Linked DNA regions of Homo sapiens: region 1 is linked to region 2. The links come from fine-mapping of genetic effects on gene expression. A gene starts in region 2. The other region holds a variant in brackets. All regions are shown on one strand. Distances are from middle to middle.

What was found. PIP is the estimated chance that this variant, and not a neighbour inherited with it, causes the effect.
Region 1: its variant is the best candidate, but not a certain one, in a credible set for the expression of AKNAD1 in esophagus muscle (GTEx, PIP 0.89).

The regions. Positions count from the first base shown.
Region 1 is chr1:109,078,755-109,084,132 of GRCh38, reverse strand. It overlaps TMEM167B-DT (TMEM167B divergent transcript), which reads left to right. Exons shown (of 2, transcript XR_947688.3): 1 at 1-918. Among named protein-coding and RNA genes, the nearest start is that of TMEM167B-DT, 3.3 kb to the left of the region's middle. The variant C/T (reference allele first, on the strand shown) is at 2,273.
Region 2 is chr1:108,854,535-108,859,912 of GRCh38, reverse strand. It overlaps AKNAD1 (AKNA domain containing 1), which reads left to right and starts at 2,819. Exons shown (of 16, transcript NM_152763.5): 1 at 2,819-2,984. SPATA42 (spermatogenesis associated 42) reads right to left here and starts at 2,696. Exons shown (of 3, transcript NR_034168.1): 1 at 2,412-2,696; 2 at 1,646-1,755; 3 at 1,389-1,528.

The DNA.
Region 1 (5,378 bases), 220 kb before region 2:
TCAGTCAAGAACAGTGGCCTGTTTGTTAGGGTTGTTGCAGTTATTGTGGTGAACACTAATCAGTCATGGGGACCATGACTGTGGCATTCTGGTTTAACCAAAGAGTAAGTTGAGCCTCAAAGGCACAGCTTGCAACAATAGCTTCATTTGAATTACAACATATTTGAAAAGGGATGTCAAATAGGCATTAATTTATGCTACAAACATTTGTTCCAGGACTTCTAAATCTAAGGAATGTGCTAGCCTTTGGGAACTCAAAGATGAATGAGAAATAGACTCTGTTCTTAAAAAGTTTAAGATTTAGTAGAAAAAGATAAGCTGTGTTTATAAATAACCAAAAAATACAGCAGAAAGTGAGAAGTGTCCAAGGAAAATGAAAACTAAGTGCCAGGGTGGCGGGGGGGTGCGTAGAAATGGGAAACTGCCTTCAGCTGGAGCGTTCAGGGAAGGCTTTATTGAGGAGCAGACATTTTAGCTGGGCCTGAAAAGCTTATAGCATTTCAATAAGCAGAAATAAAGAGCATTCTAGTGGGGAGGGAATTGAGCCATCAAAGCCCTGGAGAGGGAAAGTGTAAGGTAAGATTGGGGCACAGTAAAGCCTCCCTTCCTCCTTCAATGGCTAACTCACATTCATCCCTCAAGTCCCAACTCAGACCTCACTTGCTCAAGGTAGACTTCTCGGACCTTCAGTCTACTTCCCTGATCATGTTTCCAAAGCATACTATATCTGTTTAACTTATGTCCCCCTGCTATATTGTAATGTTCATTTGTTTTGTCATTTTATCCACAATCCCATAGCTAGTGCTAAACATTTTGCAAGTGCTTCATGAATATTTATTGCATGAATAGTTGAATGTGGCCTTGTGGAACTGGAATGCAGAGCTCATGAAGGAGAACAGCAGAAGATAATGGTGAAAGGTAGGCCCTTAAATAAAAACAACTGCCGGGCACGGTGGCCCATACCTGTACTCCCAGCACTTTGGGAGGCCAAGGCGGGCGGATCACCTGAGGTCGGGAGTTCAAGACCAGTCTGACCAACATGGAGAAACCCCATCTCTACTAAAATACAAAATTAGCCAGGCGTGGTGGCCCATGCCTGTAATCCCAGCTACTCGGGAGGCTGAGGCAGGAGAATCACTTGAACCCGGGAGGCAGAGGTTGCCGTTAACCAAGATTGCACCATTGCACTCCAGCCTGGGCAACAAGAGTGAAACTCCATCTCAAAAAATAAAAAAAAATAAAAACAATGATACTTATGGAATATTCACTACATGCCAGGTACTACCCAAAACACTTTATGGTTATTAACACATCTAATAACCTCATAATAACCTTATATGGTTAGTAACTATTATTATCCCCCTGTCATAGATGAGGAAATGGGTGTACCAGCAGGTCAAGTAAGTTGTCTCAAGGTAACATAGCTGATAAATAGTACACCTAGGATTTCAGACTCAACCTATCTGATCTCAGAGTCTGCATATTTAACCATGGACCATAGGAAGTGTGGTTAAGACTCCATTAAGATTATTGCAGAAATTCTGAAAGCCATTTTAAAAGTGACATAACCTCACTAAGCCCAAATTAGGGAGAAGCACTGTAGACGTCTACACCCTGGGATGGAGGGGTGAAAGTGGAGGTAGGGGTGGGACTGCAAAGCTTCTGCCTTGATTTGGAGTCTGAGTGGTGCTACCTGCCTACCAATATCCCATCACTAACACCTCTCAGACCCACCATCCAGCTCCTGCTTTCCTCATTTCTGATAATCCCACCCCTGCCATTCCTTCCAAATTACTCTCATAGAGCTCCATTTCTTCCTTCTATCAATTACCTCTCTGCTGATTCCATTCTTTTGTGAACAAATCTCTTTGGTCATTACCTTTTTCATTAAAAGCTCATTCCATTTTTTTGCTGTAATGAAAAACAGGATTTTCTGAGCAGTTAGCTAAATGGCTGGGATAAGTTCACAGCTTCATTCATTCAGTAATCATTTATTCAAAGTCCACATTCCTAGGTCCTAATGCCCTCTTTTTTCTTTCTTTTTTTTTTTGAGACGGAATCTCGCTCTTGTTGCCAGGCTGGAGTGCGGTGGCATGATCTCGGCTCACTGCAACCTCTGCCTCCCGGGTTCAAGCGATTCTCCTGCCTCAGCTTCCCAAGTAGCTGGGACTACAGGTGCGTGCCACCACGCCCAGCTAATTTTTGTATTTTTAGTAGAGACGGGGTTTCACCATGTTAGCCAGGATGGTCTCAATCTCTTGACCGCTTGATC[C/T]GCCCACCTCGGCCTCCCAAAGTGCTGGGATTACAGGAGTGAGCCACCGCTCCCGGCCTTTACTGCCCTCTTAAGGCTACTTTCCTCTTTGCTTTTCTACCTTCAGTATCCAACTATGTACTCGTTCTTTAACCTGTTATAATCTGGCTTCCATCTTCACCAACACCCTCAAACTTTGTTCTCCAGATCATTCCCATACCTCCTAATTGTCAAATCCAAGGCCTTTTCTTAAATCTTCAATCTTGTGGCCGGGCGCGGTGGCTCAAGCCTGTAATCCCAGCACTTTGGGAGGCCGAGGTGGGCGGATCACGAGGTCAGGAGATCGAGACCATCCTGGCTAACACGGTGAAACACCATCTCTACTAAAAATACAAAAAAAAATTAGCCGGGCGCGGTGGCAGGCGCCTGTAGTCCCAGCCATTCGGGAGCCTGAGGCAGGAGAATGGCATGAACCCGGGAGGCGGAGCTTGCAGTGAGCCGAGATCAAGCCACTGCACTCCAGCCTGGGCGACACAGCGAGACTCTGTCTCAAAAAAAAAAAAAAAAAAAAGAGAAATCTTCAATCTTGTAATCTCTGGCACTGAGCACTCCATGCCACCTGCTTTTCTTTGTTGGTTTTGTTTTGTTTTGTTTTGAGACAGAGTCTTGCTCTGTTACCCAGGCTGGAGTGCAGTGGCATGATCTTGGCTCACTGCAACCTCCGCCTCCTCGGTTCTAGCTGTTCTTCTTCCTTAGCCTCCCGAGCAACTGGGACTACAGGTGCTCGCCACCACATCTGGCTAATTTTTTTATTTTATTTTTATTTTTTGTATTTTTAGTAGAGACAGGTTTTCATCATGTTGGCCAGCCTGGTCTGAAACTCCTGACCTCAAGTGATCAGCCCAAACCTGCTTCTTTTTGAAACTTTTTCTTTTTGGGTTTTCAGTTTTTCTCCTCCCTCTCCTCCTCCTTATCCTACTTTTATCTTTTCCTACCTCTTTGACTATTCCTTCTGTCACTCTGTCTCCTTGATGTACTGTTTCTAAGGCTGTGCCCTTTGCCTCTATTCTCTCAGCCTTTGTTTCCGTGCAATCTCTAGACTATCACTTTGTGATGGTATCTCCCATGTCATTTTCTCTAGTACTAATTTTTCTTTCTTTCTTTCTTTCTTTTTGTGTGTGTGTGTTTTAGTAGAGACAGGGTTTCACCATGTTGCCCAGGCTGGTCTCGAACTCCTGAGCTCAGGGAGTCCACCCACCTTGGCCTCCCAAAGTGCTAGGATTACATGCGTGAGCCACCACACCCGGCTTCTAGTACTAATTTTTCTGTGGATTTCCGGGCCTGTAATTCCTGGCCTGGATTTCCATCAGTTTTAGTACATCTCCAGACTCTCAAACACAGACTAAACTCATTTCCTTCCACTTCCAACTTCTTTCCCCTTTTTCTTTCCTATTTATATTAATAGCATTCCATTCTTCTGTCAATAGCTTTCACATTCATTGTCACAAAGTCCTGTAAATTGTCTCGTAAAGTTTGTGTTAAATCAGTTCCTTCTTCCTCTTTGCCTTAATTCAGATTATAATCATCTCTCATCCTAGTTTCCCCGCAAAAGTGATCTTTTTAAAAACTGTAAAGTCATGTGACACATCTGTTTAAAGACTTCCCAAGAACTCTGTAGTTTGAAGTTCAGTCTCTGAAGAGAACATTTAAGGCCTTTCACACGCAAATTCCAGCCTCGTTTCCTGCATCCCCACCCAAAAAACTTGGCTCTGGCAACCCACAGAGAACATCTTGTAGAAGCACACCATGACTTTTTACTCTGTGTTTTCCTTCTGCTCTGCTTATCACACTGCAATTTTTTTTTTTTTTGAGACGGAGGCTTGCTCTGTTGCCCAGGCTGGAGTACAGCGGCGCGATCTCGGCTCACTGCAAGCTCCGCCTCCCGGGTTCATGCCATTCTCCTGCCTCAGCCTCCCAAGTAGGTGGAACTACAGGCGCCCGACACCACGCCCGGCTAATTTTTTGTATTTTTTTTAGTAGAGACAGGGTTTCACTGTGTTAGCCAGGATGGTCTCAATCTCCTGACCTCGTGATCCGCCCGCCTCGGCCTCCCAAAGTGCAGGGATTATAGGCGTGAGCCACCACGCCTGGACTGACACTGCAATTTTTTTTCCCCCACTTTGTGTTTTGGATCTCAGGTTCACAGGATTGAATTATTCACATGCCGCAGCTCATGGCATAGTATTACAATTGGCCCTTCCAAAGTCCTTCACTTTTTATTTATCAATTTATTCCTTTTATCCTTATTCCCATTTCTCCTACACTGCAACTTTCTAGTGTGTTTAATGTTTACGCTTTTTTATATTTTCCTTTAAAATAAGTAGTATTTTTAATTTCTATAAATGGTATTATATTATAGATTTTATTGTTTCTTTTTTAACTTAGCACTGTTTTCAAGTTCTGTCCATGTTGCTAAATCTATTGCTTCTGATTGCTGCATTGTACTCCGTGCTGTGCATCCAGCATATTTTACCTATCTACTCCACTGATAACAGACACTATGAATGTTTTATGCCTGACCTCCTGGACACTGGATCACTACCTAAAAGCAGTTCTCAAACCTATCAGGCTCAACAATCTCCTTTAAATATTAATAACAAATACAGTGTCTCCATTATTGTGTAGTGAAATTCAAAAATAATATAATTTACTGTGGTAGGTGACCTCTCAGAAAGCCCCCAGTGATCTCCCCAGCAATATTCTTGCCCTTATGTAATCCCCTCTCCTTGAACTTGGGCTGCACTTTTTTTTTTTTTTTCTGAGATGGAGTCTTGCTTTGTCGGCCAGGCTGGAGTGCAGTGGCACCATCTCAGCTCACTGCAACCTCCGCCTCCCGGGTTCAAGCAATTCTCCTGTCTCAGCCTCCTGAGTAGCTAGGATTACAGGTGTGCATCACCACACCCGGCTAATTTTTGTATTTTTAGTAGAGACAGGGTTTCACCATGTTGGCCAGGCTGGTCTCAAACTCCTGACCTCCTGATCCGCCCACCTCGGCCTCCCAAAGTGCTGGGATTACAGGTGTGAGCCACTGCGCCCAGCCCTAGCTGCACTTTTTTACTTACTTCTA
Region 2 (5,378 bases):
AGGGTTTTCCTAAAATATTCTGGCCCTTCTTATCTCCAGGAGGAGGTTGCAAAACTTAAGTTTGAAAGTTTAGGGAAGGGCAGAGACGTTTCAGGGACAAGATTAAAAACAAATTATACTTATTCGAGGCTGGGTATGGTGGCTCATGCCTGTAATCACATCACTTTGGGAGGCTGAGGAGGAGGATCGCTTGAACCCAGGAGTTCGAGATGAGCCTGGGCAACCTAGCATGATCCTGTCTCTACAAAAAAAAAAAAAAAAGAAAAAAAGAAAAAAAAAATTAGCCAGGTGTGGTGGTATATGCCTGTGGTCCCAGCTACTCGGGAGGCTGAGACAGGAGGATTGCTTGAACCCAGGAGGTAGAGGCTGTGGTGAGCCATAATCATGCCACTGTACTCCAGCCTGGGACACAACAAGACTCTATCTTTACAAAATAAATAAATAAATAAAATTTAAAAATTATACTTCTTTGGCTGGGTGTGGTGGCTCATGCCTGTAATCCCAGCACTTTGGGAGGCCGAGGCAGGTGGGTTATGAGGTCAAGAGATCAAGACCATCCTGGCCAACATGGTGAAATGCTGCCTCTACTAAAAATACAAAAATTAGCTGGGCTTGGTGGCACGTGCCTGTACTCCCAGCTACTCGGGAGGCTGAGGTGGGAGATGGCGTGAACCTGGGTGGCGGATGTTGCAGTGAGCCAAGATTGCGCCACTGTACTCCAGCCTGGTGACAGAGTGAGACTCTCTCTCAAAAAAAAAAAAAAAAAAAAAAAAAGACATTATACTTCTTTAAATCAATGTGTTTTAAAGTTTATCACTGGAATTACTTTCAGAAAATTAATTGGTAAGAGTTTTCTAAATGTTCCCAAAGCACAGCAAAGGTCCGTGGTTTACAGCACACACTAGGCTACATCAATGGGAAAATTGGATAAAAAGACAGGGCTAACCTCACCAAAGAGCAAGGAAAACCAGCAAAGTTTTCTGGTAAAACACAGGCAGGAAGTTTCTCCAAATACTGCTTTACTCGCACTTTTAAAAGGCTTTCCTCCCTTCCCCCCAACTTCTAAAATAGTTTCAGGATAACAAATTTGTAACAGCTGGTCATCAAATTCATGCGCACTCCCAAAAGGACGACAGCCCTAAGACTGACTATAAATAATACATCCATCTGGCTCTTGTAGGAGTATTGGATTGACTTGTTGCCCATCACAGTGTCTCCCTTCTGCCACCCCACAATGACAGGGTGAAGCTAGACAGCCTCACTGAATGGTATATGGTTACAGTTGAGGCACTGCATTGTGGGTACCCCACATTTCTGAGATAAAGTTAGCTGATAGAATTACCAGAGCATAATCAAATGCAGTCATTACAGAGGGAGCCTATATCATGTTACCTTTGAAAATATTTTAATCTAGAAACATCATACACTGTATACAAAATTCATGAATCCCTGACGCCTGGGCGTGGCCTTGGACATATTATTCTGAGCCATCTCCTATTTTCTTTCATATGTAAATGTTATTCTTGAGCTAGGAATAGGAGAGAAAGAGAAAATTGAAACAGCCAGACCAAGTGTTTTTGAATGCTCTTAAAAGACAAAAAAAAAAAAAAAGACAAAAGTTTGTATCACATCAGAAGTTCCCTACGTGCTCTTCAAAGCTGATTGCTTGCAGTTAAAAGAACCCAGAAGAAGCAGGCACGCCATGATTTTGAAGCTCCGTTTTTGTTCTGTTATTCAACTGCAGTCAACTTCCAACTGTTGAAAAAAAGATGATTTAGAATTAAAGGGTTGCTTGTCTGTGTCGCAAGGCCCTTCAACTTGTTCACCTGTGATATCCAGAGACTCCAAGATGTTGGTGAGTTTCTATTGCAATTGCCATATTGCCATGGTTTTGCCCTTTGTGTTGACTGTAGCATTGTGCTGTTTGAAGACAGAGCAGCATACTGCTTTGTGTAGTAAAAATTGATGGATAATGTACTTAAAGCTTTTAGATGTACACTATTCACATTCTAAATGACAGATACAAAAAGGAATAATCAGAATTTAGATTGTTGAATCATTGCCTCCAACAGCCAACTCTTACCGTGACAAAGTCAGTAGGGCTGATCTTAGAAGTGTAGGACTTGTGAGTGTTACGTGGTTGTACTAACTGGTACCTTAGTGGAGGGGCAGATAAGGTAAGTAGAAACAATGCCTGCTTTCTCCTCCATGTCTGGGTCCTACACATAGTCCCCAGTTTGCCTGGTTTGTAGAGGTTTAAACACAGAACAGAGGGTGTTGGGAATGAGACAAAGAGATTGTCACAGGAACATGGACCCACGGTTTTCCTTTGGTGATGAAAACAATCCTGTCAATATGGAAAACTGTGTTATCACAAAATGGGCTTAGCGAATAGAAGAAATGTCACCTACCAGCCGGAAACAACAATTCGCTGACCATCTTTGGCCTCTTGCCACTAAGGAGTTTTGGTTTTCCCATCTGTAGAAATTCTTAATTGAGTCCATCAGATTCCCAGTCATCCTAGCCATGGTTACCTTCTTCTCTAAGTTGGCAGGTTAGTGAGCTTAGGCTAGCACTTCAGCATCAAATTTAGACTTCATAATAAAGTAAATCACACAGGGAATAGCTGTCAGCATGGTGACCACCTTGTTGTCCATTCCTACTCAGGGACTGGCCTGAAGTGTTTTCACAGCCTGGGTCACTGTGATGTCCTGGCCCTGTTTGCTCAAAGTGTTCATCTCAGAGTGACTTGTGAGGTATTGCTGAGCACATAATGGTCAAGATAGCTGCATAAGCAGGCGTGGCCCCAAATGTAGTCACCTGACTTCAGAAAATCAATTTGGATTCTACAGAAAGGTTCTGTTGGATTCTGAGTGGAACCTCTTTGGATATGCCTTTGGATTTCAAGATTGAGCCAAGTGTTGACATGGGAAGATGCTCCAGTTCCTCCAGTTATCTCAAAGAAGCTCATTACCTTGCTAAGGGTATGGATTGTCCTTTTCCAGAAAAAATCCTCTTGATATTTTGCATGCACACATGCAAAAAATAATAACAACAGAAGCTGTTTTCCTGTATGTAATGAGAGTGTTCCTCAGGTTTCTGGTTTATCTTAATGGTATCTCACTCCTTTTCTTTTCCTTTCTTTCTTTCTTTGTCTGTGTGTGTGTTTGTGTGTGTGTGTTTATGTGTGTGTGAGAGAGAGAGAGAGAGACAGGGTCTTGCTCTGTCACCCAGGCTGGAGTGCAGTGGCATGATCTCTGCTCACTGCAGCCTTGACCTCCTGGGCTCAACTGATCCTCCATCTCAGCCTCCCAAGTTGCTGGGACTACAGGCATATACCACCACTGCTGGCTAATTTTTAATTTTTTTTTTCTTTGTAGAGACAGGGTCTTGCTTTGTTGCCCAAGCTGTTCTCAAACTCCTGTCCTCAAGGAATCCTTCTGTTTTGGCATCCCAAAGTGCTGAGATTACAGGCATGAGCCACTGTGCCTGGACTTTTTTTCTTTTTCTTGAGAGCCAGAGCAAAATTCAAATTTTATCAGTTTTAATTAATTATATTTTAAAAGTGGGAATTTGGCCAACAAAGTATCTTTCCTTTCTATACAAGAAGGGTATGGCGTTTGGCAATGAGCTCCTGAAAATGTAAAGAAAGCATGAGGATAACTTTGGGACTGATACTTGGGTCATTAAAAGTCTTGCAAAACTAGAATTTGTTTTCTTCTTCTTCCATTCTCTCTGTAGGCATTTAAACATACTCTCAGGCCAGGCACAGTGGCTCATGTCTGTAATCCCAGCACTTTGGGAGGCTGAGGCAGGTGGATTACTTGTGCTCAGGAGTTCGAGACCGTCCTGAATAACATGGTGAAACTCCATCTCTAAAAAAAAAATTAAAAATTAGTCAGGTGTGGTGGTGTGCGCCTGTAGTCCCAGCTACTCAGGAGGCTAAGGGAGGAAGATCAGTTGAGCCATGGTGTTGTCACTACACTCCAGCCTGGGTGATAGAGTGAGACCTTGTCTAAAAAAAAAAAAAAAAAGATACTCTGTTTTTTTTTGTTCTAAAAAATTAGACAATATTTTGTTTAAACTTGCTTAGTGATTTATTTATTTATTTATTATTTTTTATTTTTTTGAGACAGAGTCTTGCTGTTGCTCAGGCTGGAGTACAGCGGCATGATCTCGGCTCACTGCAACCTCTGCCTCCCGGGTTCAAGTGATTCTCCTGCCTCAGCCTCCCAAGTAGCTGGGACTATAGGGATGCACCACCATGCCCAACTAATTTTTGTATTTTTAGTAGAAATGGGTTTTGCCACATTGGCCAGGCTGGTCTTGAACTACTGAGCTCAAGTGATCCACCTGCCTCAGCCTCCCAAAGTGCTGGGATTACAGGCATGAGCCACCTCATCCAGCCTGATTTTTTTTTTTACCTTCAAATATATTTATTTACAGATTGAGTTTTAAAATTGTCTTAAAGTTCTTGTAGAGATTATGTCTTTTTTGTTTTGAGACGGAGTTTCACTCTATCGCCAGGCTGGAGTGCAGTGGCGCGATCTTGGCTCACTGCAACCTCTGCCTCCCGGGTTCAAGTGATTCTCCTGCCTCAGCCTCCTGACTAGCTGGGACTACAGGTGTGCGCCACCACGCCCAGCTAATTTTTTGTATTTTTAGTAGAGACGGGGTTTCACCATGTTGGCCAGGATGGCCTCCATCTCTTGACCTCGTGATCCACCTGCCTCGGCCGCCCAAAGTGCTGGGATTACAGGCATGAGCCACCTTGCTTGGACGAGATTATGTTTTACATATGCAATTCCTTCCTTTATCCTTTAAATATCCCCACGGATAAGGAGTGCCTCACCTCTGGACCTGGGCATTCTTCAGTATTCCAATACTGAGACTGGTTTTGTTTTTTCATTTTTCAACAACAATGTATGGAATTCTTACTCTGTGCCAAGCCCTATGCCGAGTACTTTAGTGCCTTATTTCAGGTATTGCTAGTCCTATTTCTCAGAAAAGGCAACCGAGACTCACAAGAGTTAAATAACTTGCCAGATGACACACAGCTAGAAAGCAGAGAAGCCAGAGTATTCAGATCCATGCCTCTCCACTTCTGCTTTCCCACTGTGCCTTTCACTTTCTTGGGAAGCCTTTTCCCTTGTTCTTCAACTTGGATTAGAATAGCCTGTAATTCTTCTCATGAAGACATGCCTCACTTTATACTAAATGTTACCCTCTTTAAATGATTTAAAATAATCCTGCAGTGATATTCTCCTTTCTCTCCACCTCTCTAAACAGAGCATCTGTTTAATTTGGGTTCTCTAACATTGGCATGTGTCTATAAATTAAGATTTTTGTACAATGTCTCACAGATGCTTTTACCACAT